Homo sapiens: one gene and its partners. The protein of the gene in region 2 purifies or fractionates together with the protein of the main gene of each other region. This does not show direct contact. Each region holds a gene or a part of one and is shown on either strand. Other genes may lie near its edges.

Region 1 (3,651 bases), on a different chromosome or scaffold from region 2:
AGTGCACATTGCATGGTTTGCCCTTGTAATTCTGTTCCTCAAAGCTCACCCCATCCTCCCCTCCCTTAAACCACCAAACAAAAGCCCCTAACATCAAACAAAACCAGGCTGGACTATATTTTTGTTTCTAATTAAGGCTCTTAATTATGTGCCTTTCTTTGGAGAATTTCTCAGCAGTACTTTGTATTTTTCTGGGCCACTTTAATTGTAGAGTTGAAGAGCACAATAGGAAAGTACGTATACTTGGAGTCTCCATTAAATAAATTTTAAAATATCCATGTGGCAATATTTGTATACAGATTTTGAGTGGAAAAGATCCTCTCTTGTAAGCATTTCTTTTAGATACGAGACAATGTTTCTCCAATTTCCAGAATCTCAGGTTGTCAGACTGTCAAAGAGGGTGTACCTGAAACTTGTCAGAAATGTAAACTTTTTAGGCTCCTCTCCAGACTGGGAACTCTCGAAGTGGGACCTAGCAATCTGTGTTTCAATAAACCCTCCAGATAACTCTAATGCACAGTAAAACGTCTGTGCTAGACCCACACTAGTAGAACAGATGATTCACATGCCTCACTCTCTTATCTACCTTGAATTCAAGCCTTACATAAGTGCATCTGGTGGAATCTAAAGCACATCCACAATCCTCACTGCAATGGATTGGGGAAGTGTAGTTTTTGTGCTAGCTAGCCTTTGCATTATCAGAAGGCATACTAGGAGGCTGGAACAGATGGTGAGTGAGTCAGGGACTCGATTGTCTCATAGCGGCAGAAAATGAGGTCATCTACCAAAAAGGTCCCAGTGTCTCACACAGTATAGTACATATTGCTTTATTAATATTGATTCAACTGAGGAGAATAATAATGATTCAACTGAGGGATAGATGTCAAAAAAGCACTTTGACTTGGAAAAGAGATTTTAAAAGATGTAAGGGGAAACAGGGCTCAGAAAGAGTAAGGGGTACCTTACACAGACCATGCTGTCTGACTTCAAATTCACTCACTGATAACTGCTACAGAGCTGACTTTTCCTCCCCTACAAAATGTGAAATGGGATGACATTACTAAGATCCCTTCCAGCTCTATCACTGTTTGACCTTAAACTTTTCCTGTCAATATGAAAAAAAGTATCAAACTATCCATGAAGTTCCAAATCCTGTCATTTAAACCCCATCATAACATTAAATGGGAGATACCAGCCTTTCTATTTATAAAACAAGATCCAGAGAGGTTAATTTGCCCACAACACAGCTAGTTAAATGGCAAGACTTACTACCACCAGGTTCCCTCACGTCACATGTACTTTGACTTTATTAGCAGCTTGTGATAGCTAAACCTTAAAAATGTGTTGTTGCCCAGGCGCGGTGGCTCATGCCTGTAATCCTAGCACTTTGGGAGGCTGAGGCGGGCGGATTGCCTGAGCTCAGAAGTTCAAGACCAGCCTGGGCAGCATGGCAAAACCCCGTATCTACTAAAAATACAAAAAATTAGCTGGGCATGGTGGTGCACACCTATAATCCCAGCTACTCAGGAGGCTGAGGCATGAGAATCGCTTGAACCCAGTAGGTGGAGGTTGCAGTGAGCCGAGATTGTGCCACTGCACCCCAACCTGGGGGAAACAGTGAGACTTTGTCTCAAACAACAACAACAACAAAAAAGTGTTGCTAAGGTAAGTTTTGAGATGTCATTTAGTAAAAGATTTTCAAAAGGAGACTCTTACCTATGTGGAAGGTCCAGATAAAATTCTTTCAATCGGTTACATTTCCTCTACCTCCTGTTAAAGTAAATTAGACCGGAGACCTGGCCTGAAGAATCCCTAAGCAGACAAAACCAGTTAGGCCTCATAAGAGACTTTAACCTTGCTTCATTTGCAAACATATGCAACACTTAACTTGGGCTATTTTTTTGGTAAATATCGATATTTTTTAAAAAAGAAACTTAAGACTAAGCAATCAGAAGCTGTCAGCTAACTTATGCAACTAACTTATGTAACCTTCCAGCAGGATAGGTCAAATTAGACAATCTTATAACTGTAACCAATCAAATATTTACTTTGTTTTACTTCTGTTAGACCTATAAAGCCTCCCCGCTTTGTGTTTCCACTGCAGAGCCCCCAAACCACTTCTGGTTTGGAGCTGCCTGATTCAAGAATCACTGTTTGCTCAAATAAACTTGTTAAAAGTTATCATGTCTCAGTTTACCTTTTAACACATGGTTTCTTTTCTCTTACTCTGTCTGCCAATTTAAACTTTTCATTAGTGTGAAAAATAGTTCTACTCTAATTCACAATACAAATAGTATCTTCTACTGAAGCAAAAATATAGCAATTAAGCAAGGCTAAATTGAATAAGAAAATGCACATCTTTTCTATCATCTTTTCTCTTTTAGACTGAAAAGTGGATGCTAATACCTTATTTTTAAACTTAATAACAAAGCATTTCTTATCACCATTGCATTAAACCTTTATGCATTTTTCCTTTTCAAGCTCTTGGTATTCTTTCTTCAGCTGACTTTGTACGTGTCTAATAACATCAACAAATATATGCCCATCACCACATCTTTGTTTCCAATCACTCATGTGGAATAACCATCTCCTGAACTGCCACTTGCTGCTGAAATAGAGGTCAGAAAACTAAAAATTCAAAACAGCTGAAATGAACTCTCAAGAAATCACTGTCAATTTCACATACCCACAAAAAAGGGCAACGTATGCAAAAACAAAAGAAAAGAAGACTGCAAGCCAACTATTTCTAAAGTAGACTTATAGACTTTGAAAATTTCTCAAGAGAAATTTAATAATAAAATTGAAATCCACAAAATTGGAATGTATAACCAACAATAGCACTCTTGATACTGCCCTAGAGATATACTCCTCTTACAGTCAAATGTAAACCTTTATCCTCTAGAATATAAGCAAATAATATAAGCAAAGTTTATCTATAAATAGAAACATCAAAAGAGGTAGTGTGTGTAGTAGTTATGAGCACAGATTCTGGAGTCAGACCACCCGGGTTAGAGTCCTGGCTCTGGCAATTCCTAGCTGTGTGGCCTCAGTTACTTAACTTCCCTATGCGTAATTTTATTTGTAAAATGATAATAACATTACTTCATAGAAATCCTATAAGGATTAAAGGACTTAGTCAAACAAAGAGAACAGTTCCTGGTGCACATTAAGCACTATTATGTATTTGCCACATCAAAGGCAAAACATTTAAATAACTTTGACAAAAGGAAACAAAAATGTCACAATAATATTGGAATTGTTTAGTTCCTAAGTTGAGGGATAGGTCCCATGGGTCTTTATTATTATGCTTCATAACATATATACTTACATTAGGAGTGTGGTGGAACCTGCCCATGAGAGCTCTCAAGAATCAATTGCGGACATCTCTTTGCAACTCCACATTCAGCCATGTCATGTTAGGAGCTAAAAATTGGCCAAGACGGCACTTACTAATACTACAGAATTGTCAAATTAGAACTTTTTTTTTTTTTTGAGTGGGCAGAGAGCTGCTTTATTAGAACACTCCAGCTATATTATTTTTGTGTAAATCAAATATTATCTAATAAATAAAAGAAAATGAAATGTTTTAACATCTGATTCCAAGGCAGTTTAGTGAACACTGTAGAATGCTTATAATTTTATTTTATTTTT
Region 2 (4,249 bases):
ATGTCCTGAATCTACAGGAGGTGACAAGGGAAAAACAAGGGCAGGGGGTGAAAGACAGAAGTGGCTTAGAGAGAAGCAAGAAAGTCAGGGTAGGAGGAAGATGTGGGTTCAGGAAAAGGAAACGCTGAAGAAGAGCAGAGGAGATTAAAACCATGGCCTGTGCCATTCTTCCAAATGGCCACCTGCTGCCTTGCCAGGGGCAGGAAAAAATAGATGGAAAAGTCCCCCGAGTGACGCAGTCACAGAGTGGAGTCAGCTGACCAATGCAGATCTTAATACGCTCACTGGACCCCTCTCCTCAGGCCCAGGACATGGGCGATGAATCTGGTAGAGCTCCAGACCTCCACCTCCATTAAAAAAAAACAGACTCCTGAGTAAGAGTTCACTTGAACTAAGGGGACTTCAGCTAAAAAACAAGTTTGAAAGACACTGATCTTATCCAGTATCATCTTACAGAGGAGGAAACTGAGGCCCAGCAGAAGAAGTGATTTTTCTGTGGTCACCCAGCAAGCTGGTGGCAAGTTAGACCTTCTCTTGCTCCTAGTGCCTTGGGCTCTCCTCACCACACCCTGGGCCCCCTTCAGTGACTCCTAGAGGGACAGCCTGATGGCAAGTGGCTGTACTCATTAGCCCAGCTTCCCCTTGCGAGTGGGGATCAGGAAAATCAAACAGCAATGACCATTTCCTGGGTATCCTGGGTGTTTACAGCAGGCCACGTACTGGGGGTTAACATGAAAACAACAACAATAAGGAATCTCATTTAAACTTCACAAATGGAAGTCAAACAATACTACCCCTATTTTACAGATGTGAAAAGAGAGGCCCAAAGAGCTCAAGCAACTTGCCATAAATCAGATCGCTAGCAGATGAAGAAGCAGGATTCAAACCCAGAATTCTTAACCAGTACCCAGCAATCTCAACAATTACCCTCTACTGCCCCTTGGGCCCCCTGTCCCCAGGAGCCTGGCCAGCCAAGACTCACATCCCCAGGTGAGTGGCAACCACCGGAAGTGGTTGTCTCAGGGCTACTGTCAGTTTTTTTCTTTTTTGTCTTTGCTCCTGCTGGAATACCAGGGCTCTTCCTTTGCTGATATTCTTTTAGCTGTGGGAAAGAAGAGCAGTAATACTCATGAGAACTACCAGCCCTTACAGCCACACCCTCCTTACAGTTTTTGCAAAATACTCTTATACACCATCTGATTTAATGCCACCAACAACTGTACAAGGTGTTGTCACAATCACTTAAGTGACTGAGAGGGATGGATATTATGGCTAAAAAAAAAAGTGTGGGGGGGCAATAATGGAACTTAAACTCAGTCTTCTGACTCCAAGCTCTGGGGTTTTGCCATGAATCAGCAGCTGCCGGGGACCAAAACCAGACGCAGAGGTAGAAAAGTAAACATTACATAGGCATGAACTACACGCTGTGTGGTTTAGAGTCATACATCCTCAAATGCCTGTTAGTGTGAAGAAGTGCACCAGTATCTCTCAAACTTTTATATCAATGTGTCCTCATGGCAGAAGGCAGCTTTTTTGTTAAATCTGGGAATTTATCAGAAAGAGGACAACCCAAGTCTCATTTCAGAGAGAAGTCTGGTATACTCTTAGAAACCTATGTGAGGGTCACCCCTAAGTACATTAATGTTTTTTCTCTCTCAAGAGAATCAAGGGAAACTGATGCTTCAGAAAGATCTCCCACATTTATCCTGTGGCACTCAATGTACCCTAAGTTGAGATGATATGAGGAAGATTCAAGCTGTCAAGTTCAGTTTCCCAAGACCTATTCCACAGAAGATGAGCAAATCTCACTTCAGAGACCACTGACTGAAGGGCAGTCTGGTCCCAGAACCGTGGAGAATTAGAATATGAGGTGGAGAACTCGGAAAAAAATGTTAAAGTCTCTCTGGAGAGTAGAAGCCTGGGAGAAAACCAAACCAAACCCATTCTCCCATTACCACCCAGAGATACTGTCAACGTTTTGAGCTCACAGGGGAAGTGTAGGCTTTTCACACTGTCGATGTCTATGTGAAGGGAGTAAGGCAGCCTGAAACCTCTTGCTCCTAGGTCCCATGGTCCCCATTTCCCTTCTAGCTGGAAATTTGTGCTGTGACCAGAGGAACCAGAAATGGGGTGAGAATGCTTAGGGGACTGGGTTATAAGATCAAAGGCCGGTCTTGCAGCAGTAATGACAGTTCCTAGGAGGACTGTGACATCACTACATTCCACTCCTCCTGGGGGTGGGGGAAACCTCATCAGTGCAATGGCTGAGTTGCCGATCCACGATGGGGGAGGGGGGACGTGGGGCTGGGACCCAGGTCCTTGGAGATGCCAGTCCAGAGAGCCCAGGGAGGTCGGGCTTGGGTCAGCAGGAGGGGAGAGCAGAGTCTGCTCAGGGAACCCCAGGAGTCACCAGCCCAAAGTCACCCCGGGATGACTGGCGATGCTGGGGGGTTGGGGCTGGGGGACCCAGGTCCTTGGAGAGGTGAGCCCAAAGAACCCAGGGAGGTTGGGCTTGGGGTGGCAGGACGTGAGGGCTGAATATGGAGCAGGTATCCCCAGTAGTCATCCGCCCAAAGTCACCGCAGGGTGATTGGCGAGGGCAGAGGCTGGGCTGCTTGCTGAAGGGGCGGGGCTGACTGACAAGACGTTGGTGGGGGGAGTCCAGAGGCGCCGGGGTAGGGGGGCCCAGCCCGGTGTGCCTCAGGAGTGGTATGGACTCTGGGAGTGGTCTTGTCATCAGAGGGGATCTCTGGCTAGGTTGGGGGGCCATGACCTTTTTCTTGGCTTTTTACCTTTTTCTTGGCTGCTGCCAATTTATTCTGTCGAGATTCTTCTAACATCATGGGGTGGGGAGGGAGGTAGGGTTGGGGCCACATCAGCGAACACCTCCAGTCACCTACAAGGCTGCTGTGTGACTGAGCCAGAGGAGGCGTAACCAGGGCCACACTAGAATGCAGAATAGGGGTGTGGCCTTAATGCTCCAATCCCATTGGTCAATGAGAAAGATGAAAGGGAAAGGAGGCGTGGCCAGGCAGCAGTGTGCCCAGAGGAACCTGTGACATCACAAGGAAAGCTGCCCATGCGACTGCTGTCCCTGCCCACTTGGGGAGAGGGGCGGGGCCTGCCTACTCCGGGAGAGGGGAGGGCTGGTTTTTGCTTTAAAATGTTAAAAATAAACTTTAAAAAAATATGTATTTATACTTTATATATATGTGTGTCAGTGTGTGTGTGTCTACATGTTCCTCCAGAGCTGTCTTCATTATCCAGCTTCTATGCATGGTCTATGATTTTGGCCTACATTTTTCATCTTCAGAGGGAGTATAAGAATTACCAGTATTACCCCAGTTAAGACACAAATCCTATAAAAATGGAAAATCCATAGCATGTTTGATGATTAATGAATGAAGTGGACTATATTATCCAACATCCCAATAAGGTAAAATAATCACAATGATTTCTCGGCTTTGGAAAAAACATTTCTCTTATTCTCCTACATTATTAAGATTTTTTAAAAAACAAGAAACATGTCTAATATCTTTAAAAACACAAAGCTTTTGGGCCGGGTGTGGTGGCTCACACCTGTAATCCCAGCACTTTGGGAGGCCTAGGTGGGTGGATCACCTTAGGTCAGGAGTTCAAGACCAGCCTGGCCAACATGGTGAAACCCTGTCTCTACTCGAAATACAAAAACTAGCCAGGTGTGGTGGTGGGTACCCGTAATCCCAGCTACTGGGGAGGCTGAGGCAGGAGAATCACTTGAACCCGGGAGGCGGAAGTTGCAGTGAGCCAAGGTCACGCCACTGCACTCCAGCCTGGGTGACAGACTGAGACTCCATCTCAAAAAAATAAAATAAAATAGTCAAAAATAAATAAAAACACAAAGCTTTCCATTTAATAAGCACTCAAAGCTCTTTACTGGTTTAAAGCAAATACAAGGCCTATTTTTCTAGAATCACCTGGCCTCTCTAAGCCTTGCAAATGAAACTGAATTTCTCACTTGATACTTGGCTATGACTTGCAATCATGAAAACCAAGAATTGTGTTATGTCACTGTGTATTGATTGTTACCTGAATTCCACACTAGGCTGGGATCAAGGGTTGAATCTTTCATGATTTGCTCCATAACCTGTGAGCGTCTTTTCCTACACCAAACTAAGCTTTGTTCTAGAGTTCTACAATTTACAGTTAGTAGACAAGAGTGGTTCTCAAAAATGTAGTCTCTGGACTAGCAGCAGCAGCAGAACCTGAG
Region 3 (3,651 bases), on a different chromosome or scaffold from region 2:
CTCTGATTATTCTAAGATTATAGCTAAGGTTGAGAAACACTGAACTGAAGAGACAAATAATAGGATACGTTTTAAAAGATTAAAGCCTCTATAACCTTTCTAAAATATAAAGATTATGAAATTATCAAGAATATGAGTAGAATGAAAAATGAACCTGCTGACAAAATTATACCATATGACAATGGAGTTCACCTGCTCCACATGTAAAGGAAGTGGCTTAAAGAGCCAAATAAAATGTAGGATTCATTTCATAATGTGGTTAGTAAATTTACACAATTTGTTACCCATGATGTAATGCAAAGTTAAGATAAACACATTCAGAAAAGTTTATATGAATTTCAAGGTAACAGATACCTACTGGGTTATTAAAAGGAAAGCAAATACACTTGAAGTATATCCTCAATGTTCTGAGGCTGACACTGAAGGCAACCATTCACTCCCATTAAATATCTCTTAGTGCCTGGGTCAGACCCAGAATATTACACTGCATGGCCTCAGGATGGCACTTGTATGCTCCAGCCTCAGAAAAGTTCATGACTGAAGATTATGCTTTTCTCTGGGGATGAGGAGATAACCGAGAGCAAAAGTTTAGCATCATGCATCTGCAACCATTTATTAAGCACTTACTTTATCTTATGTACCATGCCTCTGCTAAGTACTTTAAATTATCTTAATTTAATTCTCACAAGGTAATTTATTATCCTTAACTTACACATGAGAAAACTAAGGCTCTGAGAGATCAGAATTACGGCAAATATGTATTTTAGGCGTAAAATACAATAGTAAGTTTTAAAGCAAGAATTTTAAACCCAGGTCTCTGCCATATTGCCTTTTGTGATAATTATAAATAATAGTCACAATAATAAAGACAAACTCATTTTAAGTATTTATGTTTTCCATTAAAAAGCTCAGTAAATCTTCTCAGCTGTCCTATGAGGCTGCTCATTCTCTCTATATCCATGTATTTTTGTTTGTTTGTTTGTTTGATTGATTTGTTCTGAGACAGGGCCTCACTCTGGCACCCAGGCTAGAGTGCAGGGGCATGATCATAACGCAGTGCAGCCTTGATCTCCAGGGCTCAAGCAATCCTCCCATCTCAGCCTCACGAGTAGCTGGGACCACAGACGCATGCCAACGCACCCAGCTAACTTTGTGAATTTTTTGTAGAGATGGGGCTTCACCATGTTGCCCAGGCTGCACTTTTTTTTTTTTTTTTTTTTTTTTTTTCTGAGACAGGGTCTCCTTCTGTCGCCCAGGCTGGAGTGCAGTGGAGTGATCATGACTCACTGCAGCTTCAACCTCCCAGGCCCAAGCAATCCTCCCACCTCAGCCTCCCAAGTAGCTGGGACTAACCCGGCTAATTAAAAAAATTTTTTTTTCTGGAGATGGGGTTTTGCCATGTTGCCCAGGCTAGTCTTGAACTCCTAGACTCAAGTGATCCTCCTGCCTCAGCCTCAATCCCAAAAGTACTGGGATTACAGGATTACAGGTTTTGAGCCACTGCACCTGGCCCTCTAAAAACTGTTAAGTCATCTTTGACTCCCCTTTTTCTCAAACCCCACATTCTATCCTTTAGCACATCTTGTTGGCTCTACCTTTAAAAATGTATTCAGAATCCTGTATTTTGAATACGTATCAAATACATATTCACATATCTTATCACTACCACCTTAGTTCATCTTCTGCCTGGATTTATTAAAGTAGCCTCCTAACTAGTCCCCCTGCTGCTTCTACTTGTTTTCCCTCCAAGTCTGTTCTGAATCCTTACAAGGGGTCCCTTTTAAAGATGGTGTCACTCTTTTGCTTAAAACATTCCGACGGCTGCTCAGCTTGCTGAGGTATAAGGCCAAAGTCCTTACAATGGGCAAGACCCTGTCTGACATGACTTCTTCCATTAGTACCTGTTTGACATGACTTCTTCCATTCTCTTCCTCTACTCTAGCCACTTTTCCCTCCTTGATATTCCTTAAATATTCCAAGCGTGCTCCCTTCCCCCAGCTGTTCCTTCTGTGTAGAAAGCTCTTTCCTCACCTTAGAGATCACCTTTTCAGGTCTTAGCTCGAATGGCATCTTATCAGTGAATCCTTTCTTCCCCATTCCACCCTCTCAAATCCTCTTATTTTCTTTCCCAACATTCTATGTATTTATTTATCACTGTCTGCCTGCCTCAACAATTTAAGCTTCATAAGGGCAAGATCTGTATTTTTGCTGTTGTATCTCCGGTATCTAGAACAAGGTCTGGCATGAAGTAGATGCTTGAAAAATATTTGGGGAGTGAAAATACAAATTATTAATGCCAAAACCCAGAAAATACAAGTTATTAATGCCAAAACTCTAGCATACAGCCTCCACACCACATGCCCTAAGCTACTCAATCTTGCCACCTTTTTCATACAACTCTAACACTTACAGGTAAATATCAGGGCCTCTCCTACACCACACACCACACACATATCAAAATCTAGGGCCAACATTTTTTATTTTTTATTTACATGCCTGCTTTCTCATAAGTCAGTAATTTTCAAATACTGAGCCTTAGGTTCTCATGAACTCATAAAGTTCTTTACTCCTGCTATTCTCCCCATTCACTGCTGGCTCTTCTCTCCTTCACTATTCTTTTTTTTTTTCTTAAGATGGAGTCTCATTCTGTCGCCAGGCTGGAGTGCAGTGGCACGATCTCAGCTCACTGCAACCTCCGCCTCCCAGGTTCAAGCGATTCTCCTGCCTCAGCCTCCAGCACACACCACCATGCTCAGCTAATTTTTGTATTTTTAGCAGAGACAAGGTTTCACCATGTTGGCCAGGACGGTCTCGATATCTTGACCTCACGATCCGCCTGCCTTGGCCTCCCAAAGTGCTGGGGATTACAGGTGTGAGCCACCGCGCCCGGCCTCTCCTTCACTATTCTAAAGAAATTAGCCTTCTCCCCAAATGATAAACACTCTGATTCTTCTACAAGTTATATCGTACTAATAACTAGACTGCATGTTTCTTTGAGGTCATCTAGCACAATGCCTCACATACAGAAATTTTTCTCAAATATTATTAGTATTCCTTCTCCAATTCCTTTCACAAATGTAAAGCTCACTAATAATCTTAATCATTCTTTTTTTCCCCCCATGAACTACTGCCTAATCTCAACTGGATGTGAGGAGGGGAGCATTACCAAAAATAAAAAGAGAATTTATCAAATAAGATGAGCAAGAGTGAAATAAGTGACAAATAAATAGGTTTTTGCTATAACGTGGCCCTTTCCTTACTCCCAAGATCTGAAGGAGGGAGGAAGCAGTAAAGGCAGGCCAGGCAGATGAGAGCTTGGATTGCCTTTCACAAGTCTTCCCTGGCAACCTGAAAGAGCAGGACTGACAGGTTCTTGAAGAGGCAAATTTGACTTCATCTTAAAGGTATTTGTGTTGACTCTGGTGTTAATGGCTTAGGAAGAGATTTAAAAATTAAAAGGAGGACACCAACTGAGCCGTATTTCATCACAACGCATTCAACTATTTTACTTCCTATTGTGTTTCTAAGAAAATTCCAGTAGCAAAAGAAAAATAAAGAAGATTCAAATGTAACGATGGTAATAATTTTTTTTCCAATTACACTAATAAGGGGGGACAAAGACCAGAGATTACTGCAAACTCTTCCCCCCAA

What was found.
Region 1: the proteins of GOLGA6A (region 2) and MSANTD4 purify together in Homo sapiens (affinity purification with mass spectrometry; one large-scale study listed by BioGRID and IntAct). This does not show direct contact.
Region 3: the proteins of GOLGA6A (region 2) and STRN purify together in Homo sapiens (affinity purification with mass spectrometry; one large-scale study listed by BioGRID and IntAct). This does not show direct contact.

What each region holds. Positions count from the first base shown.
Region 1 is NC_000011.10:106,012,230-106,015,880, forward strand, and holds part of MSANTD4 (myb/SANT-like DNA-binding domain-containing protein 4), read right to left. Parts: intron 1,813-3,651; exon of another isoform or gene 1,717-1,812; intron 1-1,716.
Region 2 is NC_000015.10:74,079,634-74,083,882, forward strand, and holds the start of GOLGA6A (golgin subfamily A member 6A), read right to left. Parts: upstream 2,918-4,249; 5' UTR 2,877-2,917; coding exon 2,793-2,876; intron 1,103-2,792; coding exon 983-1,102; intron 1-982.
Region 3 is NC_000002.12:36,959,916-36,963,566, forward strand, and holds part of STRN (striatin), read right to left. Parts: intron 1-3,651. UniProt on the Homo sapiens protein: Calmodulin-binding scaffolding protein which is the center of the striatin-interacting phosphatase and kinase (STRIPAK) complexes.